Regions from separate parts of the Homo sapiens genome. Here all the other regions are linked to region 3. Evidence: fine-mapped QTL for protein levels in blood plasma. Region 3 holds a variant in brackets. A gene starts in each other region. All regions are shown on their reverse strands.

Region 1 (9,397 bases), not on the chromosome of region 3:
CCCAGGCTGGAGTGCAGTGGCACGATCTCGGCTCACTGCAACCTCTGCTTCCCAGGTTCAAGCAATTCTCCTGCCTCAGCCTCCCAAGTAGCTGGGATTACAGGCGTCCGCCACCACGCCTGGCTAACTTTTTTGTATTTTTAGTAGAAACGGGATTTCACCATGTTGGCCAGGCTAGTCTTGAATTCCTGACCTTGTGATCCACCCACCTCGGCCTCCCAAAGTGCTATGATTACAGGCATAAGCCACCGTGCCTGGCTCACAGACAATTCTTGAGCCATTTCTGTGTATTTGACACTGTGCTCGGTGCTGACTAATAAAGTGAGAAATCAGTTGGGGCCCTTTAGAGCACCTCATTTGCCTAGGAGAAAAGTCAGGCTGCACATTGGCTCCAACAAGGCCCACTCTGACCCCTGCTGTTCTGTGGTCCTTCCCTAAGCCTTTGGCTCCAGGTCTCATGGGCCTTAGCTACAGTTCTGGGGCAAATAGGAAAAGTGCCAGTCAATGTTCTGTTACACAGAGTGTCACAGCTATAATTTTTATTTTTTCTTTTCTTCTTACCATTATGAGGATTTTCCATTTATAGTTAAGGGTGTCAGTGGGAGCCAGCCAGCCTCAGTTTGATTTCTAGCTCTATTATTTACTAAGTGACCATGGGCAAGTTGCTTAACCTGTGACCTAGTTTCCTTAGCTGTAAAATGCAGATAATAATAGACTATAGACTGAATGTTTGTGTCCCCCTAAAATTCACACGTTGAAATCCTAACTCCCCATGTAAAAGTATTTGGAAGCGTTTGGGAGATGATTAGGTTATAAGGGCAGCGCCATCATGAATGGAATTAGTGTCCTTTTAAAGGACACCCAGGGAGCTCACTGAATCTGCTGGTGCCTTGATCTTGGACTTCCCAGGCACCAGAGCTGGGAGAGATATATTTTTTGTTGTCTACAAGCCACAATCTACAGTACTTTGTTGCAGCAGCCCAAATGGACTAAGACATAATAGTACCTATTTCCTGGGGTTTTTAGGATTAAACAAAACAATTCATATGTAGCTCTTGGTATAGTGTCTAGCATAGACTATGAGCTCAATTATTTACTATTAATATTTGCTATACTGTCTTCATAGCTACACTTACAATGACTTTCTAGGATTAAATTTAACAGGTATAATAATACCTTTCTTTGATGACAGATATGTAAGGTATTTCCAATTTTTAAACACAAACATAATTCCTAAGAAAGTCATCTTGTAGTTTAGAGATTAAGGAAGATTTAAGATTAAGGAAATTTAAAAATTAAATGTTGAATGGACATTAACACATTTAAATTACTGGTATCTTTCAAAAAAATTCAATATTTTCTATACATATGACAGGCTAATATCCCATCTTAAAAGCCCCGGCATGGATGATCCTTGCCTAAGGCAGAGAGCTGACCTGAATCACTCGACAAGGTCTCCTAGTCATTTGCTCTGTGGCTCTCCTGGCCAAGAAGCTGCATCAGCTTTTTTCCCCTTGCCAGAGAACCTCTGATACAGCAAAGCTCAGGGCCAACCCAGCATTTTTCAGATATCATTTGGAAATATCAGGTAGGGCAAGTGTCAGGCCATGTCACCTGATGGGGAACTTATGGGGCAGGGGTTTCTGCTCTGGTCCTTCAGCCAACAAGTCTCAAAGTTAGCAATGGTATAACAAAAATATGAACCTACACAGCTTGAGCACCGTCTGTGTGCTAGGCTCTGTAAAAACATTCTCCTCAATCCTAGTCAACAAATGAGAGACTATTTATTGGCCCCATTTAATAGATGAGAAAAGTGGCCTGGCGCGGCGGCTCATGTCTGTAATCCCAGCACTTTGGGAGGTCTAGGCCGGAGGATAACTTGAGCTCAGGAGTTCGAGACCAGCCTGGCCAACATGGTGAAACCCCGTCTGTACTAAAAATACAAGAATTAACTGGGCCTGGTGGCAAGTGCCTGTAATCCCGGCTACTCGGGAGGCTGAGGCAGGAGAATCGATTGAACCTGGGAGGCGGAGGTTGCAGTGAGCCAAGATCACCCCACTGCACTCCAGCCTGGGCGACAAGGGTGAAACACTGTCTCAAAAAAAAAAAAGTGGGGGGGAAAACTGAGGCTCAGAGAGGTGAAAGGTTTCCTCCAAGGTCACAGAGTTGGCAGTCATGACCCAAGTCTGTCTGACTCTAAAGACACAAGCTCCTCCCACAAGCACGACAAGACCTCAATTAATTCAATTTAACCAGCATGGGTTGGCACTTACATGTGTTGCCCCTGCTAGGTTCTCAGAACAGGGAGAACATCTGACGTAAGAGACAGACACATAAATAACAAGTTCTAGTATTAAGGCTGATGCATGCCTATGAGAAGTAATAAAGCCATGTGGGCAATACAATTTATCCTGTTGTATATATTTCTGAAAGCCATCCTTAATCCTTTTAGGAAGAGGCAACGGAGAGGTAGATTGGTAGATCAGGGCTGTAATCAATGCATAAACAAGGGGTGGTGGGGAAATGAGAAGGGAGAGATTAATTCCCACTCAAATCCAGGAATGTCTTTTAGAGAATGTGACATTTTGGTTGGGGTTTGAAGGGCCAGGGAGGGTCAGCAAGGGAATATGGGGGACTGGCATGACCTGTCCACCCTCCCAAAGCAAAGTAAAAATAGAACCTTGGTTAGTGCTTGCTAAATATTGGTCCTGAAGACAGAACACTCACATTCTCCCTCATTCCCGCTGTCTTATATACATAGACCTATCAAGACACACCCATAGATAACCACAAATGCAAAAACACAGAAAATACACAAAAACACACACCAGTACACATGCACAGATTATTAAGACACAATATATGAAAATAGATACTAGCTCCCATACTCATAAACTCACACAGATACATACAACACTCATACACACAGACTCACAAACATGTTTATGCATTCATACACAGCCTCCCCCACCCACTACTCATGCAGGAAAATAAATGCATGCTTTAATTAACATACACGGGTTCACACATAAATCTCATCCTGCTGGTCTGGTTGAAGACCAATGACTAATGGGAAACCATGCACAAAGCCAAACATCACGTAGGGGAGGCCGGGATTGGGTTAGCAGTGGGGCTTGAATTAAGCCCCATCAGATGACAAACCCGCCCTGCCTGGCTTCCTCTGGAAGCTGCTGAGCCGAAGCAGCAGCGCCTGACCTAGCTCTGGATCCTGGGCGGATGATGCGAGGCTGCGTGCCCGAATTCCAGCTTGATTCAGGGTTTAGTGTCATCCAGGGTCAAGCTCGGCTATTAGCCCCACCCCAACCCCTGCAACCAGCCGGAGGCTCTGGGGGCACTGAAGGGCTGTGGCCTGGGGCTGCTTTCTAATCCTGGGCTTGCCCTGGCGCAAATGCTGAGAATAGTTAGCATTAATGAGGGTTACAACAGTGGGCCAGGCTCTGGGCTAAGCCCTTTACGTCCATGACTTAATTCTCACAACAGCTCTGTGAGGGGGGTGGGGGGTGAGGGGTGTCCTATCATCTCCATTTTAGTGGTGAAAAAACCGCGCTCAGGCCACAAAACCATTCAGCAAAAGACATCAAGTTGAGGTTCAACCCTGTCTGATCCTATTCTTCCCGGGGTTTAGGTAAGTGTGCTTGCGAGCCTGTCTCCTCCACGCAGGAAGCTTGCACCTTCTGCCCTCAGGGGTCTCCACCGCCCGGTCCCGCCCCCTTGTCCAGTCTGGCACAACACCTGGCCCACAGCAGGTTTCTGGTGAGGGCGTGGGTCTCGGTTCAGGGAGGCCCTCAGCAAGGGCCTCAGCTTCCCCATCTCTGAAATGGGAATGGCGGCAGAGACCTCGCAAGGCTGCGACCAGGCTCTCTGGAGCAGCAGAGGGCATGCCAAGCTCTACATCGTCGCTGCCGCTGCCCTCTCCCATCGCGGGGTTCCCGCGCGGTCCCCGCCCGAGCTGGGGTGCGGCGCTGGCGCCCCATTGTTCAGGAGGGCGGGGATGCTCCCGAGTGCTGATTCCACCCCCCGCTCGTGCTCGCAGCCCGGTGGAGCAGATGACTAGGCCCGGCGTCTGCCGCGCGGGGCGCATCCTTTGTCTGCTCCGCGGCGCCCGGTGCCCGAGGCCCGCGCCCCACTCTTTGGGCAGACAAAGCCGGGGCCGCCGCGAGCCCGGCGGGCTAGAGCTGGGCTCGCACCACCCTTCTCCCGCCTCACGGACCGCCCCCTCTCCTGGACGTCCTCTGATTGGCCTACGGGGCTACAAAGAGGCCGGGAAGCGGGCGGATCACGTGGGCGACTGTGGCTTCCCATTGGTTAGGCGCGGCTGCCAATCGAGGAGGGCGGGCGGTCCGCGCTCGGTCCGGTCGCTCCCTCCGCGCTGGGGCCCGCCCGCGGGGCCGGCCGCCTGTCAGAGGGAGGTGGCGATGGTGCGCCCGGTGGCGGTGGCGGCGGCGGTTGCGGAGGCTTCCTTGGTCGGATTGCAACGAGGAGAAGATGACTGACCAACCGACTGGCTGAATGAATGAATGGCGGAGCCGAGCGCGCCATGAGGAGCCTGCCGAGCCTGGGCGGCCTCGCCCTGTTGTGCTGCGCCGCCGCCGCCGCCGCCGCCGCCGTCGCCTCAGCCGCCTCGGCGGGGAATGTCACCGGTGGCGGCGGGGCCGCGGGGCAGGTGGACGCGTCGCCGGGCCCCGGGTTGCGGGGCGAGCCCAGCCACCCCTTCCCTAGGGCGACGGCTCCCACGGCCCAGGCCCCGAGGACCGGGCCCCCGCGCGCCACCGTCCACCGACCCCTGGCTGCGACTTCTCCAGCCCAGTCCCCGGAGACCACCCCTCTTTGGGCGACTGCTGGACCCTCTTCCACCACCTTTCAGGCGCCGCTCGGCCCCTCGCCGACCACCCCTCCGGCGGCGGAACGCACTTCGACCACCTCTCAGGCGCCGACCAGACCCGCGCCGACCACCCTTTCGACGACCACTGGCCCGGCGCCGACCACCCCTGTAGCGACCACCGTACCGGCGCCCACGACTCCCCGGACCCCGACCCCCGATCTCCCCAGCAGCAGCAACAGCAGCGTCCTCCCCACCCCACCTGCCACCGAGGCCCCCTCTTCGCCTCCTCCAGGTGAGTCCGGCGCTCCCTCTCGGGCAGGACCCGTCCTCACCTCAGCCCCGGCAATCTAGGGTTGGGCTCTTGCCTATAATTTATCGTTTGTTACCCCAAAGACACCCCAGGTTCCGGCTCCCGAGGGGGGATCCCAGGTCCAGCTAGTCTCCCTCCCGCCCCCGATCAATCTGGAAAGTCTTTTGTCCCCCGTGGGCTGTGCTCCCTCGGGAGGGGGTGGCTGCTGGGTGGAAGGCATCTCATCTTCTTCCCAACAGGGCTTTCTGGCCTTTTTCAGAGACCAGAATGGGCGCAAACTTTTGGGTTGGGTTCGCGCACCCAGCCTCTCTGCCTGGGTTATTTGGGGAAGTTTGAAAGCCCGCATAGTACCTCCTTCAACCACTGGGTCAAAAGCTGAGGGTAAGGAATTCCTCCCAAAGCTCCAGTTTCCCTGTTCATTTCTTCTTGTTTATGTAAATATCAGATGTGTGTGTATGACAGGTGGAAGAGAGGTAGTGAGAGGATTTTGTTTACAAACAGTAGTATGGACCACTTGAGGGCAAAAAATAAAAACAAAAAAGGCATTGTAATCCATGTTGTCCCTGCAAATAAGTGGATTCAGTAGGTCATTTGGGACAGGTGTGTATCTAGGCTGAGCACATTTACAAATTAGGTTAAATCTCTTCCTCGCACCATTTTTTTCTTCCACAATTATAAGGTCAACATGTTTGGCCAAATACACCATTTAAGCAAGGATGCCTATTTTTGTCTCCTTAAGCCAGGATGTTCAACTTTGCTGATGCTGATATATGCCAATTTCTGTTTGAGCCCACGTAGAAAAGGCTTTTCTTGCTGAAGTCTTCAAGCAAAGTTAAAGACAACTCGTATTCTTTCCCCGTTTAAATCTTAAGTGGGCCTAGGACTAAAACAAAACAAAACAAAAGCCTACTTTGTCAGAACGTTTGGACAAAAGTTTCTGAATTGTCTTGCTTTGAGTTGGGGTGGAGGTTTGTCCAAATCCTTTGTCTAGCTGGGTCTCTGACCTAAATCTTAGGCTTAGTGATTTACTGTGGAGTCAGGTATGGACTTTGGACTATAATTGAGTGTGTAGAGAATTTTCCCACATGGTTATGAACCTTAATACAGTCTTGATCCTTGGGTTGGAGCTTGGCAATGACATAAGTAGGATTATTCACCCATAAAAAGCCAAGTGTGCATCTCTTCCAGCTTCAAGGAATGCATTAGCTAGCTGGGTTTTACCTGTAACCCCTTTTGGCTTTCATATAGAGAGATTGACATATTACTGAGAGACAGGAAGCATAGTGGTTGAGAGTATGGACTCTGGAGTTTATTCTTAGGTTTGAATCCTAGCTCTTCCCCTTGTTAGCTGTGTAAGCTTAGGCGGCTCACTGAAGCTCTTTGGACTCAGTTTCTTTGATTGTGAAATGAAGATAATATTATAGTAGTACTTAACTCATAAGGTTGCTGTGAAGACTTTTTTTGTTTTTGTTTTTGTTTTTTGAGACAGGGTCTGGCTCTGTTGCCCAGGCTGAAGTGCAGTGGCACAATCTTGGCTCACTGCAACCTCTGCCTCCCAGGCTCAAGCGATCCTCCCACCTCAGCTTCCTGAGCAGCTGAGACTACAGGCGTGGGTCACCACACCCAGCTAATTTTTTGTATTTTTTGTAGAGATGAGGGCTCACTATATTGCCCAGGCTAGTCTTGAGTTCCTGAACTCAAGCAGTCCTCCTGCCTCGGCCTCCCAAAGTTCTAGGATTTCAGGCATGATTCACTTCACCAGGCCTGCTGGGAAGATTAAATAAGTTAACACTTACTGTGCTTACAACAGTTCCTAGTGTAGAATAAGCACCGTGTGTGTTAGCTATGCTTATGACCAGGCCTGTGGGTGTGTGTGTGTGTGTGTGTGTGTGTGTATGTATGTATGTATAGAAAGCATTTGAGAAAACTAGTAGGGACTTGGGGTGATTTTTATTTGTTTTAGTAAAATATAATAGAAAAAGAATGAATTAGATTCTCTGGAGTTTTAAGCATACAGTAGCATTTAAGTAGAAAGATCACTTACTTTGGTTAGTATCTGATAAATAAATCTGTGTAATTCATGTTATTTTACTTTTACTATTTTTGTGTTGTTATTTTTCAACCCCAAAGGTAACCCCTACTGGCAAAAAAATATAAACAACCAGAAGTCCACAAAGGAAAAAGGGAAAGTCACTCCTTCACTGCCTCCTAGTTTCAGTCAGTCCCTAGAGGTTACTACTGTTAGCAATTTGTCAGATCTTTTTTCAGCTGTTTTTGCTGGGCATATATGAACATACACACAGGGTATTTAAAAATAGATTTTAAAAAATCAAAATGGAATAATTCTATACATGTTTTGCAACTTGTGGTATTCACTTAACTATGTATCATGGACTTTTAAAAAAAATATCGGTATCTAGGGTCTACTTTATTCTTTTTAATAGTTGCATTTTCCAGGGTAAGAATGTATCATAATTTATTTAACCAAGCCCTTATTTATGGACACTTAGATTGCTTCTAGGCTTCACTTTAAAAAGCAGAGAGGAAGCAGCACAGAGTATTTTTGTTAAATCCATCATCTATTTACTATATTCTCTAATACTTTCACTGGAGTTGCTTAGAATCCAATTCAGTATACACTGCAGTAAAGCTGGATTGAGTAATATTTGTCATCTGAACTGTTGTTCAAGGCTTTTAATAATTTTCATGAACTAACATTATACTTACGTCTGTGATGGTCTTTGGGTGAAAAAATCTTGGAAGGATGTCCAATTTCGATAACTTTCCTGTGTTTTAAATATTAGGTAGTTTGTACTTCTCTGTGAATTCACTCTAGATTGCCAATATCTAGTTCTCAGCAGCTAAATTGACTTTACAGTGATCTGATCAAGTATGGAGCATGGGCTCCAGTCTACTTTAAACAGAAAACATATCTCTTTGGCAGAAGGAAAACTTATAATTGAATTTGAGACAACTGGTTTGGCTTGCAAAGTTGGATTCCCTGGCATTTGAGAAGATGGTTGTACAGTATTTTTTAATTTCAACGTTCCTGTAAGAACTAATGCCACTGATAATATATTATTTGATTGAATAGGTCTTATAGATGCTTTTTGAATTAATAATAATTTCTTTCATGGAGATCTAGCTGAGAGCTCTTGCCTGCCCCTCAGTTAGGGCCCTTTTTTGTTTACAAGGACACTGATCTGCAAACTGAAACTAATTGCCCAGCAAGCAGGCACTTTTTCTCCCACAAACCCAGCAAAACATTCACTGATTGGTTGGCTGGGTAGGACTTTTTTTTTTTTTTTTTTTTTTAAGACGGAGTTTCGCTCTTGTTGCCCAGGCTGGAGTGCAATGGTGCTATCTCGGCTCACCACAACCTCCACCTCCCGGGTTCAAGCGATTCTCCTCAGTCTTCCAAGTAGCTGGGATTACAGGCATGTGCCACCATGCCCAGCTAATTTTGTGTTTTTAGTAAAGACAGTGTTTCTCCATGTTGGTCAGGCTGGTCTCGGATTCCCGACCTCAGGTGATCTGTCCACCTTGGCCTCCCAAAGTACTGTAATTACAGGTGTAAGCCACCGTGCCTGGCCCTGGGTAGGACATTTTAAGCAGGGTGAAGAGAGATGCTGTGATACCAGAGGTAATAATAATCAGTAAGACACTAAGGTAATGACAAATGTTTGATTTTTTTTTTTTTTTTTTTTGAGACGGAGTTTCGCTCTTTTTGCCCAGGCTAGATTGGCTCACTGCAACCTCCACCTCCGGGTTCAAGCGATTCTCTTGCCTCAGCTTCCCAAGTAGCTGGGATTACAGGTGCGCACCACCATGCCTGGCTAATTTTTGTATTTTTAGTAGAGATGGGGTTTCACCATGTTGGCCAGGCTGGTCTCGAACTTCTGACCTCAGGTAATCTGCCCACCGCGGCCTCCCAAAGTGCTGGGATTATAGGTGTGAGCTGCCGCACGCTGGCCCAAATGTTTGATTTTAAAAATTATGGACCCTTAGGGGTAGATAGGACTTTAAATGCCACTACCTCCTAATGTGGCTCTACATTTGAAGAAATATTTCCATAGGCTTAGCTGAAATTTCTTACTTTAGTTAACTGATTGATCTGGCTCTGCCCGTTGGGGCCATGCAGAAAAAGTTGGCTGTCTCTGTGCCATGACAGCTCTTACAGGTTAGGGGACAGGGATCATGATCCCTCTCTGTCTTGGCCAAATAATTTCAGCTCCTTCAACTGA
Region 2 (9,294 bases), not on the chromosome of region 3:
TGATCTCAAGGAAACAGGAAAGGACGGGCGGGGGCGCGGGCGCCGAGCCGGTGCGCCGGTGCGCGGTTGGGCGGGCTGCGGGGTCCGGGGCGCGATCCGGGGGCGGCGCGGGAGCCGGCGAGACACGCCCTTACCTTTCTTTTCCTCCAGAGCCCGACTCGCCGGGCAGAGCGCAGCCAGCAGCGCCAGGAGCGCTGCCCCGGCCGTCCCGGAGGGTCGCATCGCTGCTCCCCGAAGAGCTCGCTCCGGCTCTCCCGATCAATACTGGACGGAGTCAGGGGGCCGTGCGCGGTGGTTGTGGCGTTGGCGGCGAGGCGGGGACTCGGGCGGACGCCGACGAGGTGGCCTGTCGTCCGGTCTGGGCGGCGGCGGCCGCCGGGGCTAGCTCGGGACTCCGGCCGCCTCGGCCGCGTCGGGCGCTCACACCGTGCGGGGGGCGGAGGCTGCTGCGGCCGCGCTGCGCCGGGGGCTGCCCGGACGTCTAGCTCGCGCGGGCCGAGGCGCGGGGAGGCAGGGCGGGAGGAGGAGGGACCAGGCGGCGGAGGAGGGATCGGGAGGAGCAGAGGAGGAGGAGAATGCGAGGAGGAGGGAGGAGAACCAGCAGCGGGGACCCAAGGCCAGCGGCCGCCGGAGGCGGTGGACAGCGGTGGCCCCCGCGGGACCTAGTCTCCGGCGGGAGTGGGGCGGCGCATGGGAGGGGAGCGGGTGCCCTGAGGAGTTAATTTCCGAGAGGGGCGTTCCCAGCACTGCCCCTCTGGACCCGGTCCCCGCGGACTTGCAGGCCCAGCCTATGTCCAGGTCGAGCCAAATCTGTGCCAGGGTCCCCTTCCCCCTTTCCCTTCTTTTGTTTTACAAAGCAAACTTGTACCAGCTTTAGACAGACTGGCCGAGCCTTAGAGCCAGCGTCGGATAATGGCACCGACGGGGAAACTGCTCCTTTATTCGGGTCCCCACCTCCCCTGCAGCACTACGGGACCCTCTCGGGGATCAGAGGCTGGCCTGGCAGCTGAGGAGGTCGCCGTGCCCGCGCGGCAGGGGTGCCAGGCGTCCGAGGTGGTGCTCTAAAGTCCGAGGGTCCTTCAGATCTTGTCAAGCACCCTCGAAATCATCTGAAATGAGGGCACCCAACTCCGGGTGCAGAGACAGGCCTCCTTAATGTTTATTGCAACCAGCCATGGGTACTTTGAAGCCAATGTGTGAAGCACATTACTTCGCAAAAGTGAAGCTCTTGGAATAAAGGCTTGACACAAACAGCCGTGGAGGTGCTTTTAGAGAGGCTAAGTGTCCCACTGCCCCTGTAGCTCCCGCAGGAGAAATGCCAGGGAAACTCGCGGAAGCTTTGGCCAAAAGAAACTGAGCTTTTTTGGGCTGCAGGAACTTGAGCTATATTCCTTTGGCAAGTCCACCCCATCCCCACTGTTCCTTCTCCTGCAGTAAAAATGTCCTCTAGGTCCATGTTACAGCCAGACCCCTCCTCTCTTCACGAGATTCACTAGGACCTTCAGGCCTGGTTCAACAACCCTGATCTCTCGGCTCTGTCAAAAATCACAATCCTGAAGTAAGTGAAGCTACAGACCTGCCCTTTGCTGTCTCTGAAGGGGAGCAACCTTACATCTTTCCTCCTCATCCAGCAAAATGTTTGTGCCTGGGTCTCGCACCCTGCAGCCTGAACGGTGGGGTTTTTCACCAGGGCAAGCGCAGACAGACACAGGTCTGCTCACTGCCCGCACAACCTGGAACTTCCCTGTGAATTAGGAGAAGTAATCTGTTCCTTTGTTTTAACAAATCAGTACAGCCACTGTGCGTTGAAGTCATGCCCTGAATGCAGAGGCCATGAAGGCTCTGCAGGCATGTGTGTGCTTCCTGCACACCTGGGCTGAGAGCAGTCCGTAGAAACACAGAAAACAAAACTAGAGAAAGGCAAATGGGAAGCACAACAGTGGAACATAAAATGAAGACAGGAGTGAGTCTTACAATAAAAGACCTGAATACAATAAAGTCCTGTGCATTCACTTAACAAGGGCTGCAAATTTGGTTTTAAACTATATTTTCTGTCAAGGGAATGTGACCTGTGTGTACAAGTCACAACACAAATCAATTTAAGCTACAACTGATTTGTAAGACTGTACAGGAATTTCTTTGAGTGCCCAAAAAGACAGCATGTAAGAACATCAGTTCTCACTACGTTAGGACTATATGAGACAACAGCCTTCATAGTACGGCTTGTATATTCTTCAATGTGATCTGATAGCATCACAAGAAACAGAGCTTTTTGTAAAGAATTACTAGACACACACATAGCACAATACTGGGATGGATTCCAGGGAACAGAGAAGAATGGGTTTGCTGAACATCTTCATGGGACATCTATGTAAAGTTTGAGTTTCTCCTTTGAGCTTTTGATACAAAAGCTGACATTCACGTTGATTTTGTAGTCCTTGGCTAGTACCTGGAGTGTGCTGATAACTGTGTTACTTGGTAAGTAAAAAACTGTATGGCCGAGCAGGCACTAATGAAGTCCTCTTAAGAGAGATAAGTAGCCTGGCATAGTTAGGGCCCTGCACAGTTAGGGCTCTAGCTCACAGCCTCTGTGGAGGGTGGTCCTAGACCATGGCCCGGACAGAGGCTGGGTGTGTGTGCCACCACCACAGGAATGACAATAGTGGCCCAGTTGCTGTGTTAAGCATTGGTCAGACTAAGCTTATCTGATAACCTGTGAGCTGGTTAATACTTGTATCTGCCTTTTATAGCAATGTGATGCTGTGGCCGGGAGAAGTGACCAGGATACCAAGGTATACTTGCTAGTATGAGAGGCCAACTTTGAATCCAAGGCAGAGCCGTGTTTTACCCCTCTTGTCCAGCAACGCTTCAAAACCTGAGACAAATGGTGATGTCAGGACCTAAAATTCTATTTCATAATGTCTTGGAAATTTGTTAGGGTGAGTAATACCAAAATTTCTGCTTGGCCAAAAAAATTATAGATAAAGCCTTCATGTATGCTATATTAGCAAGTATGTACTAAGACTCTAGTATTTCCCTTAATAAATCTCATAAGCGTCTGTCAATTTTAATAACACAGATGGTTCCATCCCTTTGCCAGCTGTACATGAGAAACTTTTTTCCTCTGATGAGTGGTTATCCTCTTAGAAGAAGTTTCTGAGTATGTTGAATAAGAGTTTAGTCTTGTCTATAAGGAATGTGGCTCTGAATTTCCTAAAACCAAATGCTCTGTGAAAGGGGAGGAGAAACACGTTATTTGGCAGGGTGAAGATCTGAGGTCTTCAAATATTCTAAGTTCCATCTTAGGCAAAAGGCATTTGACCACCTGTTTTCTCTGGCTTAGAGGTCAAAGTAAAGATTGATTAGGAAAAAAAAACATAGTGGCAGATTTTAGACTTTCAAAAATATGTTTTATAAGTTATTGGAGCTAAGTAAAAGTAGAATAAGCTATGTCAGAGTGGAAAGGGCTTTTTTGAGAAAGATTTTTGTGCAAGAACAATAAGTACTAATGGAGGTTGTGAATTAAGGACTGACACAGGTTCCTTCCAACCCTAAAGTTCCTTAAGAAAATGCACTTCTAAAATAGGTTTTCACTTAAACATGTGTTCACTTGACAGCTCTTCTAAGGATATATGTTAAGGAGATACAAGAATCTGGTAACAGCTTTGCCTCTAGGGAGGAGAACTAGGTAGCTCGGGGTCAGGGGTTTAGAGGGAGACTTGTTTTTCAATTTGTCCTTCTGTACCATTGGGATTTTGTACCAGGAGCATGCCTCACCTATTTCTGCAAGGTAAGTGTGGCCCCTGCTGAGGTTCAGGGACACTCCTGGGGGCAGGCTTTCATGGTTTCTGAGACTGTTTATTCCTTCTCCTTGAAGGAAGTCATTTGCCTTGAGCTCTGAGTTGAGACCCATCTCTTGCAGAATGTGGAAGAAGCAGCTTTTTCAAGGGGTAATGTGCTGACAGAAAACTGCTGAAGCATTTCTCCTTTGTCATTAGTATGCTTCATCATCTCTAGAGTTGAGGGTTACATGTCACTATAGGAGGCACTATTGGCGCTCCATTCTAGCAACAAGTAGAAAGCTGAGCAAACCGAAAAATTAACACCTCTTCTTAGCTCTTTCAGAGAATTGAGGTCATTGGGCAAACCACTGCCCCCCAAATTGGAGAGACAGGCAAACACAGAAGCACAACCTCCAGAGGAAGAAACCAGCAGACAGAAACCTCCAAGGACCCAGTGCCGGCTGGGAAAGTTTGCCCTGTAATTGAGAAATTGCGGGAGGCTCAGTGTGGGCAGTTCTGCAAATTAAGAACTCCAGCAGAGCCCAGTCATGGTGCAGGGTAGTATGAGACACTTGAGAGTGTTACCTCCTGGAGCTCTGCTAGGTCCTTACCACGAATATTAGGGGGAAAATCTCATTATGCTTCTGGCAGTGGAAGGAGAAGAGGAACCATTTTGAAATAGGTTGGAACATTCTATTATTAATAGAAGGTCTGCCCTCAGGAGAAATTATTTCACCAGAGGCCTAACCTGGTGTTTTATCAGAGGGTGACCTACCCAGAGCAAGGGAAATATACAACTCCACCCCCCTCCAACAGTTCTGTACCATCTAAGGGGCTGGGGAAGCTGAGAAGCAAGCATGAAGTTCACAGTCCAGGGACACAGGCTCACTGGAAGACTGTGACATGCGGCAGGACTGTGCAACACTCCCTCTCCCCACAGCTTGTCACTACGTCACTAGAAGCCTCTTTACTACAGCTCCTCTTACCCAGTATATCATTTCCACATTGCAAGGCACACTAAAAGGCAAAGACGCAGTTTGAAGAGACTGCACAAGCATCAGAACCAGAATGAGACATGACACGAACGTTACAACTAACTGCTGTGGTTTGAATGTGTCCCCGAAAAGTCCATATATTGGAAACTTAACCCGCTGTCCTCATGAATGAATTCACATGGCTCTCATGGCGGTGGGTTAATTCTTGTGGGAGTGGCTATGTTATAAGAGTAAGCTCTCTTCACACGTGATGCCCTCTCCCATGTTATGATGAAGCAAGAAGACACTCATCAGATGCTAGCACCAAGCTCTTGGACTCCCCAGCCTCTAAATCAGCCTAAATCAGCTTCTTTTGTTTATAAATCACCCAGTTTGTGGCATTCTGTTATAACCACAGTAATTGGACTAAGACATTATCACATCGGAGTATTAATTATAAAAAAACTATGATTAATAGGCTAGGAGTTTTAATGGAAAAAATAGGCAACATGTAAGATCAGATGGATAATGTAAGCAGAGCCATGGAATTTTTCTTTTTTTTGAGACAGGGTCTGGCTCTGTTGCCCAATCCAGAGTGCAGTGGCGTGACCTTGGCTCACTGCAACCTCAACTTCCCAGGCTCAGGTGATCCTCCCACCTTAGCCTCCTGAGTAGCTCTGACTACAGGCATGCATCACCATACCTGGCTAATGTTTTGTAGAGATAGAGTTTCACTATGTTGCCCAGGCTAGTCTTGAATTCCTGAGAGATGAAAGTTTTAAGAAAGAATTTAAAAATTCTAGAGATCAAAAACACTGTAAAAGAAATGTAGAATACTTTTGAAGTACACATTAGTGGGCTGAACATGCTTGAGGAAAGAATTTCTGAGATTGAAGATACGTAAACAGAAACTGCCAAAACTGAAAAACAGAAAGAAAAACGACTAACAAAAAGAACAAAACAAAACTTTCAAGAACTGTGAGATAATTACATGTAATGGGAATACTGTAAGTCAAAGAAAGAGAAAAAGGAGCAGAAGCAATATTTAAAGCAATAATACCAAAAATTCCTCCAAATTAATGTCAGACAACAAATCACAGATTCTGGAAGTTCAGAGAACATCAGGAAGATATATGCCAAGAAAACCCAAACAAACAAATGATACCTAGGCATAACATATTCACACTTCAGAAAATCAAAGGTTAACGAAAAATTCTTAAATGAAGCCAAAGGGAAAAAACACCTTACCTGTAGAGGAGCCATAAAGAAAATACCTATAGAGAATATTAGAATTACATCCAACGTATCCTCAGAAACCATGCAAGCAAGAAGAGAATGGAGTGATCTGGTGTATGTCTTCATCTTTTTGGGCTTCTGTAACAAAATAACATAAAATGATTTACTTGTAAACAACAGAAATTTATTTCCCATAGTTCTGGAGGCTGGGAAATTCAAGATCAAGGTATTTGCAGATTTGATGTCTAATAAGGGCCCACTTCTTCATAGATGGCCATAATTTCACAGTGCCCTCACATGGCAGAAGGACCAAGGCAGCTCTCTGTGGTCTCTTTTATAGCACTAACCCCATTTGTAAGGCCTCCACCCTCATGACATAATCCCCTCCCAAAAACACTCTCCCCTGATAACATCATTTTGGGAGCTTACATTTCATCATATACATTTTGAGGAGACATAAACATTCAGTCCATTGCAGTATATTTAGACCACTAACATTTAAGGTAATTATTGACATAGTTGGATTAATAGCTACCATATTTATTACTATTTTCTATTTGCTGCCCTTGCTCTTCTTTTCTTCCTTTCTTTTTATTTATTTGCTTGTTTATTTTAGAGGCAGGGTCTAACTGTCTTCTAGGCAGGAGTGAAGTGACATGATCACAGCCCACTGCAGCCTCAAATTTCTAGGCTCCGGTGATCTTCTCATCTCAGCCTCCTGAGTAGCTGGGACTACAGGCACAGTCCTAGCTAATGCCTGGACTTTTTAAAATTATGTTTGTATAGATAGTGCCTTGCTATGTTGCTCAGGCTGGTCTCAAACTCCTGGCTTGAAGTGATCCTCTCCCCTTGGCCTCCCAAAATGTTGGGAGAAAAAAATCTAGGGCAACTGATTTTAAAAAGTTAAAGACTAAAATAATTGCTATGCTAAAAAGAGGAAATCGAATTATACAAAATGCTGTGTAAAATCCACAGAGGCAGAAAAAGTGTGGAAAACAAAAATAGAAAAAATGAGCAAGAGTGTGGTGGCTCACGCCTATAATCCCAGCAAGAAAATCAGCAAAACCAAAAAGTGATTCTTCAAAAAATCAATAAAATTTATAAGCCTCTCACCAGGCTAAGAAACAAAGAGAGAATACACAAATTATGAATATCAGAAATGAAAGAAGGAACATCACTACTGATCTCATGAACATTGAAAGGATAATAAATGAATATTATGAACAGCTATACCCACGAATTTAACAACCTACATGAAATGAACCAATTCCTTGAAATAGAATGTACCAAAAGTCATACAAGAAGAAATTGCCAATCAATATAGGCCTATATCCACTATAGAAATTGAATAAATAATTAATAACCTTCCAAAACAGAAAGCACCAAGCCCAGATGAGATCAGTGCTGATTTTCGTCAAACATTTAAGAAAGAAATTACATCCATTCTCTACAATCTCTTCCAGAAACTAGAAGTAGAGGGAAGACTCCATAATTAATTTTGTGAAGCCAGAATTACCTTAATAGCAAAACCAGACAGAGATATTACAAGAAAGGAAAGAAAACTGTAGACCGATATCTTTTATGAACATAGATGTAAAAATTCTCAAGAAAATATTACAAAATCAAATGCAACAAAGTGTAACAAAGTTATACATGATGACCAACTCCGATTTATTCCAGATATGCAAGACTGGTTCAACATTTGAAAACTCAATTAATGTAGTTCATCACATCAACAGATCATATCAATAGATAAAGAAAAATTACATGATCATATCAATAGATACAGAAGAAAACATTAGGCAAAATCCTACACCTATTCATGATAAAAATTCTCAGCAAACTAAGAATAGAGAAGGATATCCTCAACTTAATAAAGAACAGCTACAAAAACCTATAGCTAAAATCAGGAACAAAGCAAGGATGTTTCCTTTCACCAATGCTTTTCAACATTGTATTAGAAGTCCTAGCTAATGCAATAACACACAATAAATAAATAAAATGAATACTGATTGGGAGGGAAGAAATAAATCGTGTTTGTTCACTGATAATGTAATTGTCTCTTAGAAAATCCAAAAGAAACAATAAAAAAGCTCCTGGAACTAATAAGCAGTTATAGCAAGTGAGCAGGATACAACGTTAACATACAAAAGCCAATCACTTTCCTATATACCAGCAAAGAACTAAGGGAATTTGAAATTAAAAACACATTACCATTTACATTAACACCCTGAAATGGAATACTGAGGTATGAATATAAGAAAATATGTATAAGATCTATAAGAAAAAAACAAAAAAACTCTGGTGAAAGATATCAAATAACTAAATAAATGGATCAATAGTTTGTGTTCATGGTCAGAAAGACTCCATAATGTCAAAATGTCACTTATTCCCAACTTGATTTATAGATTAATCCCAGTCAAAGTTCGAGCAAGTTATTTTGTAAATATTGACTAATTGATTCTATGGGCAAGCAAAAGACCCACAATAGCCAACTCAATATTGGAGAACAAAATTGGAGGATCAACACTACCTGACTTCAAGACATATACAACTACAGTAGTCTAGACTATGTGGTATTGGTGAAAGAATAGACAAATATATCAATGGACCAGAGAGATCAGAAACTGACGCACATAAATTTAGTCAATTGATCTTTGACAAAAAAGAAACACAATACAATAGAGCAAGTATAGTCTTTTCAACAAATATTGCTGGAACAAATGGACATCCACATGCAAAAAATGAATGTAGATACAAACCTTACACACTTCATAAAAATTAACTCAAAACTGATCATACATATAAATGTAAAATGCAAAACTATAAAACACCTAGGAGATAACGTAGGAGAAAACCTAGATGACCTTAGGTATGACAATGACTTTTTAAGTACAAAACCAAAGGCACAATCCATGAAATAAATAATTTATAAGCTGGAGTTTATTAAAATTAAAAACTTCTGCTCTGAGAAGGACAATGCCAGGAGAAGAAGACAAGCCATATACTGGAGAAAAATTTGCAAAAGAAATATGTGATAAAGGATTGTTATCCAAAATATGCAAAGAACTAAACTCTTAAAAGTTAATAATAAGAGGATAAATAACCTGATTTAAAAATGGGCCAAAGCCCTACACAAACACCTCATCAGAGGATACACTGATGGCAAGTAAGCATATAAAAAGATGTTCAACATCATATGTCATTAGGAAATTGCAAATTAAAACAACAGTGAGATACCACTACACATCTGTTACAATGGAAAAAATTCAGATCAGTGACAACACCAAATTCTGATGAGG
Region 3 (8,000 bases):
AGAATTCTTCAGGGATTTTTAGCGATATGGTTGTGGTAATTGAGCTAAATATTCTGCAAAACAGCCATGCTGTTGTTTTGACAACCTCTTTTAGAACAATTTTTTTTTTTGGCTTCCATTTTCCCCAAGTTACCTTGTCTGTATGTAATTGTCTCCATTGATTTTAGTTTTGTCTTCTGGAATAATTCAGAAAGCCTTTGATAAAATTTTGCCCTTCAGCGTTGGAAGACAGCTTTGTCATTCCTGAGGAGTTGGGTCCTGGCCAGGCGTGGTGGCTCACGCCTGTAATCCCAGCACTTTGGGAGGCCGAGGCAGGTGGATCATCTGAGGTCAGGAGTTTGAGACCAGCCTGGCCAACATGGTGAAACCCTGTCTCTACTAAAAATACAAAAATTAGCCGGGCGTGGTGGTGCGCACAGGAGAATTGCTTGAACCCAGGAGGCGAAGGTTGCATTGAGCCAAGATTGCACCACTGCACTCCAGCCTGGGCGACAGTGAGACTCTGTCCCTTCCCCCACCCCCCCCTCCAAAAAAAAAGAAAAAAAGAGTTGTGTCCCAAGTTATTCTGGTAGCATCCTTGTTTTAGTTTCCTCTAAAAGGGTGATTTTTGTGTCCATATCTATAGTATTTTAGATAAGGTTAGATGAAGTTATCTTCTATGATGACTTGAATGATTTTTCTGTTTCATTTGTAAGATGAGGTTGTTGGATTAAAGCATAACTTTTGCTATGAATTTGATTTCCAGACTTTTTTTTTTTTTTTTTAGCTTTGTTAAAAATTTGCTGAATTGGGCTGAGCACAGTGGCTCATGCCTGTAATCCCAGCACTTCAGGAGGCTAGGGCTGGCGGATCCTTTGAGGTCAGGAGTTTGAGATCAGCCTAGCCAACATGGTGAAACCTTGTCTCTATTAAAAATACAAAAAATAAGCCGGGTGTGGTGGCGCATGCCTGTAATCACAGCTACTTGGGAGGCTGAGGCAGGAGAATTGCCTGAACCTGGGAGGTGGAGGTTGCAGTGAACTGAGATCCTGCCACTGTACTCCAGCCTGGGCTACAGAGCAAGACTCAGTCTCAAAAAAAAATGAGTTGGTGGTTACTGTTTCCAAACCTAGACCTCACATAAAAATCCAAATTTTTAGGCACTTCCTGGAAAAGTATGAGGTTTTGCAACAGTGGAAGCATTGAATTGGAAGCATTCCATTATTGGCTAGCATCATTGGCTAGATTTGAGAGATTGGCTTTTTTCTTTGGTGGTAGGAGTATGTCCTCCTCAGTTTGTCCTTGGTCACACGTGACCTTTGTCCCCCCCCCCCCCTTTTTTTTTTTTTAACCTTTATCTAACTTGCTCCTGTAAGAATTCGGGTTTGTAATTCTCAGGAATGAAGGATTTATCCAGGCCCCTTCTTGTACGCTGGAGGTTGTTCAGAACCATGGAATTCTTTTTTTTGTTTGTTTGTTTTTTTGAGACGGAGTCTCGCTCTGTCGTCCAGGCTGGAGTGCAATGGTGGGATCTCGGCTCGCTGCAACCTCCGCCTCCTGGGTTCAAGGGATTCTCCCACCTCAGCCTCTGGAGTAGCTGGGATTACAGGCTCCTGCCATCATGCCCAGCTCATTTTTTTTTGTGTTTTTATAGAGACGGGTTTCACCATGTTGGCCAGGCTGGTCTTGAACTCCTGACCTCAGGTGATCTGCCTGCCTTGGCCTCCCAAAGTGCTGGGATTACAGACATGAGCTACTGTGCCCAGCCCAGAACCATAGAATTCTTTTTTTCAGACGGAGTCTCACTCTGTCGTTCAGGTTAAAGTGCAGTGGCACCATCTGGGTTCACTGCACCCTCCGCCTCCCGGGTTCGAGCAATTCTCCTGCCTCAGCCTCCCGAGTAGCTGGGACTACAGGCGCCCACCGTCAACGCCCGGCTAATTTTTTGTATTTTTAGTAGAGACGGGGTTTCACCGTGTTAGCCAGGATGGTCTCTATCTCCTGACTTCGTGATCCGCCCGCCTTTGCCTCCCAAAGTGCTGCGATTACAGGCATGAGCCACCACGCCTGGCCAGGACCATAGAATTCTAATGATGTGATCTTCAATTATTTTGTGAAATCTTATTACCTGGATAAGAGTCAGGATTGCTTTATCTTGTTTGGCAGTTAGAGAACAGTTGTTGATTCACAATATTTCTGGTCAGTTAAAACATTTTCACAGGTTAGTCGATAGTATTGTTCATTATTTTCTCTGTTCTTACAGACTCTTAGTAGTTTTGTCAGTTATTGAGTTGAAATCTGAACTATATGTGTTTTCAGTTTCTCTTCAGAGTTTTATCATAAGTTTTTGCTGCATGTATTTTGAAGCTCTGTTGGTAGGTTTATGAAACCTTTTGGAACTTATGGAATATAGTTAAAATAACTACCATTTTAATAACTTTGATTTTTCTAGCCTGGGCAACATGGCAAAACCCTGCCTCTACAACAAATACAAAAATTAGCTGGACATGGTTGGTGCGTGCCTGTAGTCACAGACCCTTGGGAGGCTGAGGTGGGAGGATTGCTTGAGCCCAGGAGGCAGAGGTTGCAGTGATCGAGGTCGTGCCACTGCACTCCAGCCTGGGTGGCAGAGTGAGACCTTGTCTCAAAAAAAAACCAAAAAACAAAACTTTCATTTTAAAAATTTTTCATAGAGGTGGGGCCTCCCTGTGTTTCCCAGACTGGTCTTGAACTCTTGGCCTCAAGTATTTTTCTCCTCCTACCTTGGCCTCCCAAAGTGCTGGGGTTACAGGAGTGAGCCACCGCATTTGGCTTAATATAAATTTCATTTTTAATGTTGTTTACTAATTCTATCATCTTTCATTTTCTGGGTTTGTTGCTCGCACTGGTTTTTCTTCTCATCATGGGTTATATTTTCCTGCTTCTTTCTTGGCCTGGTTAATTTTCCAGCTATTGTGAGTTTTACCTTGTAAAATTTTACTTTGTTGCTGGATATTTTTGTACTACAAATATTCTTGAGCTTCGTTCTGGGATGAGGCTAAGTTACTTGGAGACTGTTTGATCCTTTCAAGGCTTGTTTTTAAGCTTTTGTTCAGCAGAGTCGCAGCAGCTTTTAGAGACTAGTTTTTCCATGCTACTGAGGGCAGGAACCTTCTGACTACTCATCTGATGCCTTGTGAGATTCTCACTTTGGGTAGTGGAAGGAGGAATTACTCTGCTACTTCTGTGAGTTGTGGGGATTGTTTCCACTGCTTCTTTCTGGGGCTTCTCTGGTAGTTTATACGCATGTGCTAATTAATCAGTACTGAGCTGAAGACTTGAGAGGGACCTGGTACACCACTCTGGACTTCTTTCTCTTTTTTTTTTTTTTTGAGACGGAGTCTCGCTCTGTCTCCCAGGCTGGAGTGCAGTGGTGCGCTGGACCTCTTTCTCTGTGCAGCTCTCTCATCTCTGTGCTTCGCTCTGACAAGTCCAGCTGCCTTGGCTTCCAGCTCTGGCTTCTCAATTCAGGGGAGCTTTTTCTCCCCCACCCCCCTCAATCCAGGCTTTGGATTCTCCCTCCCTGTGCTTTTTGGCCTGAAAAGTATTCCCAGGCAATAAGCTAGGATGGTTGTAGGGTTTATATTTGTTCCCCTTTTCAGGGATCACTGTCCTGTGCCGCCTGTTCGTCAATATTTGAAAACCTATTGTTCTATTCTGTTTTTTAGTTATTTCAGTTAGGAGAGTAAATCTGATTATTCCAATTTTGTCTGGAAGCAGAATAAGATCACATTCTAAACCTACATTTTATACAAAGCCACTAGCCATATGTGACAATTTAAATTTCGTCTAATTAAAAGTAAATACAATTTAAAATCCAGTTCTTCTGTTATCCTTAACAACATTGTAAATGCTCAGTAGCCACATGTGAGTGTAATGGCTTCCTTATTGGACATTGCAGATATAAAACATTTCCATTGTTGCATAAAGTTCTGTTGGACAGTGTTATAACATTTAAAGAACTTAGATTTGTTCTTAAAACTGTGTGAGAAATTTGCCTTCAGTGTTTTCATCTTGTTTAAGTTTTGATTTTTTAAAAAAATTTTAAATTAAAAAATTTTTTTTTCTTCAGCCCACGTAAGTTTTGATTATTTATTTATTTATTTATTTATTTATTTATTT[ATTTT/T]TTGAGACAGAGTCTCACTCTGTTGCCGAGGCTGGAGTGCAGTGACACTGTGTTGGCTCACTGCAACCTTCGTCTCCTGGGTTCCAGCAGTTCTTCTGCCTCAGCCTCCCGAGTAGCTGGGATTACAGGCGTCTACCACCACGCCCGGCTAGTTTTTGTATTTTTAGTAGATACGGGATTTCACCATGTTGGCCAGGCTGGTCTTCAACTCCTGACCTCAGGTGATCCACCTGCCTCAGCCTCCCAAAGTGCTCAGATTACAGGTGTGAACCACCGCGCCCGGCCAAGTTTTGATTTTAAAACATTGAGCTGGATGGGGTTGTGAACAAATTTTTGGAGCTTACCATTTACAGACCTTTAGAACAATTTCTTCACCTTAGTAATCGGGCCCAAGAAGGTGTTCCACGGTGGTAGTGAAAGGACTTCTGTTACTTTAGAAAAAGAGAAAACATTTTAAATGTTTATCTTCCTTTAAAATGAGGTAATGTGAAGAGATGTCAAATGAGCATGAGACAAATTAGTGGTGCTGTAACCAGTTAATAATTCAGCTTAATCCTTCTGTCATGAAGGTTTCATATTGTTTTAATCTTAGTCATGTATTTTATTAACTCTTACTCATTGTTTCAATACTTCATTCAATAGATCAACGGTTAGAGACAAGAAGCATTAAGAAAATTAAGTCGATAATGAAATACTAGATGATGAGCATAAAAATGTAAATGATTCTAAATATTTGGTTCACGATTTTTGTTACTTTTTTCTTTTTTTTTGAGACAGAGTTTTACTCTGTCGCCAGGTTGGAGTGCAGTGGCGCAATCTCACCTCACTGCAACCTCCACCTCCTGTGTTCAAGTGATTCTCCTGCCTCAGCCTCTTAAGTAGCTGGGATTACAGGCATGTGCCACCATGCCTGATTTTTTTTTTTTTTATTTAATAGAGTCAGAATTTCACTACATTGGTCAGGCTAGTGTTGAACTTCTGACCTCAGATGATCCACCCTCCTCTGCTCCCCCGCCCCGCAAAGTGCTGGGATTACAGGCTTGAGCTACCACGCCCGGCCAACTCCTTTTTCCTTCCTTCCTTCCTTCCTTCCTTCCTTCCTTCCCTCCTTCCCTCCCTCCCTCCCTCCCTCCCTCCCTCCCTCCCTCCCTCCCTCCCTCCTTCCCTCCTTCCCTCCTCTCCTCCTCTTCTTTTCTTTTCTTTTGTTTTTTCTTTTTTTTCTGAGACGGAGTCTTGCTCTGTCGCCCAGGCTGGAGTGCAGTGGTGCGATCTTGGCTCACTACAACCTCCGCCTCCCGGGTTCCAGCAATTCTCCTGCCTCAGCCTCCCGAGTAGCTGGGATTACAGGTGCCAGCCTCCGTGCCCGGCTAATTTTTGTATTTTTAGTAGAGATGGGATTTCACCATTTTGGCCAGGCTGGTCTTGAACTCCTGATCTCGTGATCTGCCCACCTCAGCCTCCCAAAGTGTCTTTTATTCTTTATAAGTTGTCTGTGTTAACATCCTGTATCTGAACAGGTCCTTGGTAATATTTCAAAAAGTAACGTTAAAAAGAGAAAATACAGTGCTACCCAGTATTGCTTTTTATTTTTGGAGACCAGAGACTGTTCATACTTGGAATGTGTTATTTGAAGTGTTTGTAGATGCCGTTTTGAAGCCACTTTTAGCTTATCACGTAGTAACAAAATACAAAAATTGTTAAAAAAAAATTTTAGTCGGAAACATAAGAAGTCCAAATATCAGGGTACATAGGCAGTTTTGCCCCTGTGTAATGTATGCCATTTTAGCCTACATTTTTAACATTCATGAGTTTACAAACAGGGCATGCCATTTTATTTTTATTTTTTATTTTTTTTTTGAGACGGAGTCTCGCTCTGTTGCCCAAGCTGGAGTGCAGTGGAGGGATCTCAGCTCACTGCAACCTCTGCCTCCTGGGTTCAAGTGTTCTCTTGCCTCAGCCTCTTGAGTAGCTGGGACTACAGGCCCCCGCCACCACGCCTGGCTAGTTTTTGTATTTTTAGTAGAGGTGGAGTTTCACCGTGTTGGCCAGGCTGATCTCAAACTCTTGACCTCAGGTGATCACCTGCCTTGGCCTCCCAAAGTGCTGTGATTACAGGTGTGAGCACCATGCCCAGCCCAAGATAAGCCGTTTTAAAGTAGATATGTCAACAAATGCATTTTAAAACTTAATTTAGATAAAATTGTCTTTGTATGCTTTAAGATGATCTTTATAGTATAATCTTGCCTAATATGCTGATTAAAAGTAGTTTTTTTTCCTTCAAATCATTTAATCACATTTACTACTTAAATGATGAAATGTCGCCAGGAGTTCTTATTACTGTGGAAGATGACTTCAAGGGAAGAAAAAGTTAAAAGTATTTTTAGTGATTCCTTATCCTGGTTCATCAGAATTTGGGAAGCTTTTACAAAATACACATTCCTCGCTGGGCAGGATGGCTCATGCTGTAATCCCAGCACTTGAGATGCCAAGGCAGGTAGATTGCTTGAGCCCAGGAGTTCAAGACCAGTTTGGGCAGTATAGTGAGACCCTGTCTCTACCAGAAAATAAAACATTAAGGATGGTGGTCCCTGCCTGTAATCCCAGCTACTCGGGAGCTTGAGGTGCAGGGATTGCTTGAACCCAGGAGGTTGAGGCTGGTTTGAACCATGATGGTGCTGCTGCACTCCAGCCTGGGCGATAGAGGGAGTACTCTGTCTTTAAAAAAGAAAAAAGTGAACAAAGTGAACACCTGTGACCAAATTTGAACACAAGGTTTATGACCATTACACTAAGACTGGTATAGCTAATTGGGAGGCTGAGGTGGGAGGATTGCTTGAGCCTTGGAGGTCAAGGCTGTGGTGAATTCTGATTGTGCCACTGCGTTCCAGCCTGGGTGACAGAGTGAGACCTTGTCTCTTAAAAAAAAAAAAAAAAAAAAAAAAGAAAACCAACAAAATAACTACATTCCTGGGCAGCATCCTCAGAGCTGGAGTAGGCCATGTAAGTGATCCTGGTAATAACCGTTTGATGGTAGTAGTGCTGTCTTGGAATACTCCACGTGTGAGGTTAAAAAAAGTGTGTGCTGGCGGGGCGCAGCGACTCATGCCTGTAATCCCAGCACTTTGGGAGGCCCAGGTGGGTGGATCACCTGAGGTCAGGAGGAGTTCGAGACCAGCCTGGCCAACATGGTGAAACCCCGTCTCTACTAAAAATAAAAAAGTTAGCTGGGTGCCATGGTGGGCGCCTGTAATTTCCCAGCTACTTGGGAGGCTGAGGCAGGAGAATTGCTTGAACCTTGTGAGGCAAGGTTGCAGTGAGCTGAGATTGCAGCACTGCACTCCAGCCTGGGCGACAGAGTGAGACCCTGTCTCAAAAAAAAAAAAAAAAAAGTGCCAGTAAATTTAAGCAGTGCTGTCTTAAGTTTTTTGACACCTATAGAATATTCAGTTTTAAGATGCTAATGTATTTTGGGATGACTCTCTTAAGAGGGTAATAAAGCAAACCTGGTTCCGTGCAACACCAATTTGGGAAATTTGGATCTTAATTTATGTTGGTTTATTGATTAATGTTTGTTCAGGTATGAATCAACTTAATTTTGCCTAATTAATCAGCCTACATTATCTTATAGGTAATAATTTTGTGAGTGGCTGTCATTGCTTTGCCAAAATAGGAAAATAATGGAATATTATAAAAGTGCTCTGTAACCACAAACATTCTATAAAAGCCTCCCCTACTTAGTTATTAAGATAAACGATGTCTGGCGTTCTCTTTTAGTTCTTACCAGAATATGAAATGAGGCATGGCTTGAGTATATGAATATGTTGTGGGTCTGAGTGGTTATACATATACATCATCC
Region 4 (3,797 bases), not on the chromosome of region 3:
ACAGAACTGGGACAACACAAACATTCGCTAGAATAATTCTCCCACTCCTTGAAAGAGTACACATCCCTTACCCCACCTCGGCTCTCTTCCCAGGGGGAGGATGGGTGGCCAAACATAAGATGGAGATGTCACTCTAGAGGGGCTTCTCACAGGTGGAGGGCAGGGAAGGAATCTCTTTCCAGATCATTCCATCACCCAAGGACAGGCACAACTACCCTGGGCCCCACCCCAGCCCTCCCAGCCGCAGCCCCACACTGGCCCCTCACGCTGACACTTCAGCTGTCTCTCTCACCCACAGCCCTGTGTGTCAACGTGGCCTCTGTCCCCTCCTGCCCGCAGCCCCCTGTCATGCTGGTAGGGCCCAAAAGGAAGACAGGCATTGGCTGGACAGGAAGGGAGAGGACTCTGAAGTCAAGAGGGAACCTCAGGGCCCCCAGCTCAGCTCCACTTTCTACAGCCTAGAGAAGTGGATGGAAAGGTCATTCGCCTGAACAAGAGGAGCGCTTCTCCTCCCATCTGGCCACCTGCCTGCCCCTAAGGCTTTGTTCAACCCATTATTGTTGGCTGGAATAAGACTCTAACCACCTCTTAATGCCTCCTCTTCAGAGTCCAAAAATTCCCTGGACATTACTGGGTAGCTGGGAGCCTTGGATAAGTTGCTTCATTTCTCTGAACTTCCATTTTCTCATCTGTGCACCTACTTCACAGGACTGTCACAGAGATTAAATGAAAGCATGGATAAAAACCTAGCATATAGGAAGTACACCGTACATTTCTTAAAAGTTAAGACAAGACAGGTTCATACAGCAGGAATATGGGTAATCCCAAACCACGAGAAAATTAAACATGCTTTGTGTTTGACTTTGGAATGCCACGTATTTTTTCTTTTTACATTTGATCCCTATCTTTTCAATTGTTTTTTTCTTGACAAATAAAATGAGTACTTTCCCCAAGTATAGTAAAGAGAGGAGGCTGTTGGAAGAATCATACTGGAATTAAAATATGAAGGAGTTCTGCAAGATTAAAAGGATGTATTTGCTGCAATTTGTAAAACCCATACCTCTAAGAAAGGATTTCAGAAAAATCCTGACCCCTCTGGGGCTCCCCCTAGGCCTCCCCTTCCCCCACATTCCTGCCCCAGACCTCACCCCTTGGGTAAAATCTGGGTGCTGGAGGCAGCTGGGTGGTATACTTTTTTTCTGAAACGGAGTCTCACACTGTCACCCAGGCTGGAGAGCATTTGCAATCACAGCTCACTGCAAGCCTCAACTTCCTGGGCTCAGGTGATCCTCCTGCCTCAGCCTCCGGAGTAGCTGGGACTACAGGCACGTGTAATCACATCCAACTAATTTTTGTATTTTTTGTACAGAGTTTTGCCTTGTTGCCCAGGCTGTGCAATGACTTTTTAACTAACTCCTGCACAACACAATCAATAGTGCAGGTTGAGGGGTGAGGACATGAGGAGGCCCCATCCAGAGAACCCAGCCCTCAAATCCAGCTCTGCAGCAACTGCCATTCCCTGATCAACTCCCAGCCCAAGGTGAGGAAGGGCAGCAGCTCAGCCTGACAGCTCAGTATGGCCTCACCCTTCTCATCAGAAGATGAGAGGTGAAGATGCTTGTCTGGGAAACAGGGAGGGCAAGGATGTACTCCCTGGAAGAGAGGAACCTTCTTCCTCAGCAAGAAGGCGTGGCCATAGAAGGCTACCTCCCTCTGTTTATGGCAGATCTGGCCCAGCACCTTAAGGGAGTTCCTGCAGAGGACAGAGTTCAGCCTGTGTCCCCAAGTCAGCAGAGAGACTGCTGTTTGGCAACACAAAGCCCAGACACACAAATACAAAGACCACACAACTGAGGAACACCCTGGCGTAGACCTGCAGAGATAACACGGCCATGCACTCACTCACAGAGGGCCCCTCGGGCAACACACAGCCACGATGACACCCACTCCCTCCCCAGACCCTCTGACCTATGGAGACCACCCACGACTCCCAGAACACTTTCATTTTGTCTCCCCTGCAGCCCAGTGACTCAGGGAGCAGTGTCCCTCATTGCTCCAGGTGCACTCATCCATATAGCGATTTCGAATGCATGGTTGGGGGTCGCACTGCCTGGGGTCCCATCTTGACCCCACCACTTACTAGCTGCTACTCAACCTCTGGACTGCTACTCAGTCCAGAATGCTGGCAGAACTTCCACTATAGGGGTGTTCTAGGATTAAAGGAGAATGCATGCAAAACACCACAAACAGTTCCTGGCAGAGTATACCTGGCCCAGGCTATATGTTAGCTTTTATGATTAATGCACACAGGTGGACAGATGGGTCAGGATACACACTGCCCCCACTCACCCTTCCCCACGCACAGCACCAAGGAAAAGGCAGCAGAACAACGCAGCCCTCCCTAGGCTCCCATCTGGCCTTATTTCTTAGCTTCCTTCTCTGGGAACTCTCCCACTTTACACCCCAAGAAACCCACCCCCACCCCTCCATGGTCCACGCGCTCCAAAAGTCACAGAGCACAGTCCCTAAGCTGGCCCCAAGAATCTGTTCAAAGCAAACGTCTCCCCCGCCCCCAACCCAGACCCCAGCAAGAGGCCACCCTCCGGGCCACCCTTTCCTCCCCGGCTCTGGTTGGGACAGGTTGCTATGCCACCCTCCACTCCACCACACACACACACACCCGACCCCGCCAGAAGCAGGAGCAACCAAACCAAAATCGTCTGAAGGGGAGCGGGGAGGGGCTGGAGGAGGGGCAGGGCAGAGGACCCCCCCAAGGAATCCAGCCCAGGCCAGTCCGGAGGCGGAGGCTGCCAACTGGAAAGGCTTTGAGAAAGCTTGAGGGGGCTCAAGAAGGGGGGAAACGCGCGCGCGCGCTCTACGCAATACACCCTTTGCGGGAAAACTTTCTGAACAATTTCAGAGAACTTCTTTGACAAGTTCCCGGAGCCCCTCGGAGCCTGGAAAGCGCCAGTCTCTTGGATGGGCCATCTCGAGCCGCTGCCGTGTAACTGCCCCCTCCCGCCCGAGGGCCCCAGGGCCCGGCTGCCCTGAGCGTCTCGACTGTCCACAACTTCGGGATAGGAGAGCTCGTCCGGGCCCCTCTGGCCCCGCCGGCCGCGGGACCTCGGCGGGGCATCCACAGGGCAGGGTCCCGCCGCTGCTCCGTCCCCTCCCCACACCAGACCCACCTTGGGTGCTCGCGGCTCCGGGGGGCAAGAGGGCGAGGAGGAGCCCCCAGCGGCACAAGGCCGCCAGCTCCATGGTGCTCACTGCGGCTCCGGCCCCATGGCTCCGGCTGGACCCGGCTGGGAGGGCGCGGGGCGCGGGGTGCTGCGAGGGGTGGGGGCCGGGCGCGCGGCGCAGTAAAGGGCCCCGTGGGAAGGGGCGCGCGGCTGCCCGGGGGGCTCCCCTGGTTTCTCCGGTCCCAATGGAGGGGAATCTCAGCTTCACAACTTCATTCTTATACTTCCTCAAGCAGCCCTCCTCCTCCACCTCCTCCTTCTCCTGTGATTGGGAGCAAGCGCGCTCCCAGCTCGCCCCCTCCAACTGCATTCCAACAAGTCTGGGAGTGGCAACTCCCAGCTTCACTTTCTCCCTCTCTTCGCGCAGGCCTGGGTGCGTCCCTCCTAGCGCCGGGACGCCTGGGTTGCCTGCAGCCGTTCTCACACTTTTCCTCGGAGAATCCCTAAATGCAGAGGCTGGTGACTCTGCCCCCTCCCCCGGAGTCCGGGATAAATTCCCTAGGCTGCCACTCTTAACACCCTTTTAAGTCTCAGGTTTTATCTTAAACTTTCCTG

Which allele goes with the higher level. Positions count from the first base shown, and alleles are read on the strand shown. Strength reflects both the effect of a copy and how common the allele is.
With allele T in place of ATTTT in region 3, the plasma level of the protein whose gene starts at base 4,423 in region 1 is higher (weak association).
As copies of ATTTT replace T in region 3, the plasma level of the protein whose gene starts at base 483 in region 2 goes down (weak association).
For the plasma level of the protein whose gene starts at base 3,436 in region 4, ATTTT is the low allele of the variant in region 3 and T is the other (weak association).

The links. PIP is the posterior inclusion probability: the model's chance that the variant is causal. The UK Biobank Pharma Proteomics Project read protein levels with antibody pairs (Olink). The fine-mapping took linkage between variants from a reference panel, not from the people measured, so its PIPs are less certain.
Region 1: MEGF9 starts here. The variant in region 3 is fine-mapped to the plasma level of the MEGF9 protein (UK Biobank, PIP 0.98).
Region 2: it holds the start of EGFR, and the variant in region 3 is fine-mapped to the plasma level of the EGFR protein (UK Biobank, PIP 0.96).
Region 4: ERBB2 starts here. The variant in region 3 is fine-mapped to the plasma level of the ERBB2 protein (UK Biobank, PIP above 0.99).

What each region holds. Positions count from the first base shown.
Region 1 is chr9:120,709,496-120,718,892 of GRCh38, reverse strand. MEGF9 (multiple EGF like domains 9) reads left to right here and starts at 4,423. Exons shown (of 6, transcript NM_001080497.3): 1 at 4,423-5,135. The coding sequence starts at 4,535. RefSeq lists a silencer at 3,886-4,735.
Region 2 is chr7:55,010,206-55,019,499 of GRCh38, reverse strand. It overlaps EGFR (epidermal growth factor receptor), which reads right to left and starts at 483. Exons shown (of 28, transcript NM_005228.5): 1 at 135-483. The coding sequence starts at 222. LOC105375284 (a long non-coding RNA gene) reads left to right here and starts at 578. Exons shown (of 4, transcript XR_007060329.1): 1 at 578-2,939.
Region 3 is chr3:136,178,066-136,186,065 of GRCh38, reverse strand. The region is part of intron 1 of MSL2 (MSL complex subunit 2); the gene reads left to right. Among named protein-coding and RNA genes, the nearest start is that of MSL2, 14 kb to the left of the region's middle. The variant ATTTT/T (reference allele first, on the strand shown) is at 4,141.
Region 4 is chr17:39,699,703-39,703,499 of GRCh38, reverse strand. ERBB2 (erb-b2 receptor tyrosine kinase 2) reads right to left here and starts at 3,436. Exons shown (of 27, transcript NM_004448.4): 1 at 3,189-3,436. The coding sequence starts at 3,261. RefSeq lists enhancers at 1,453-1,952, 1,953-2,454.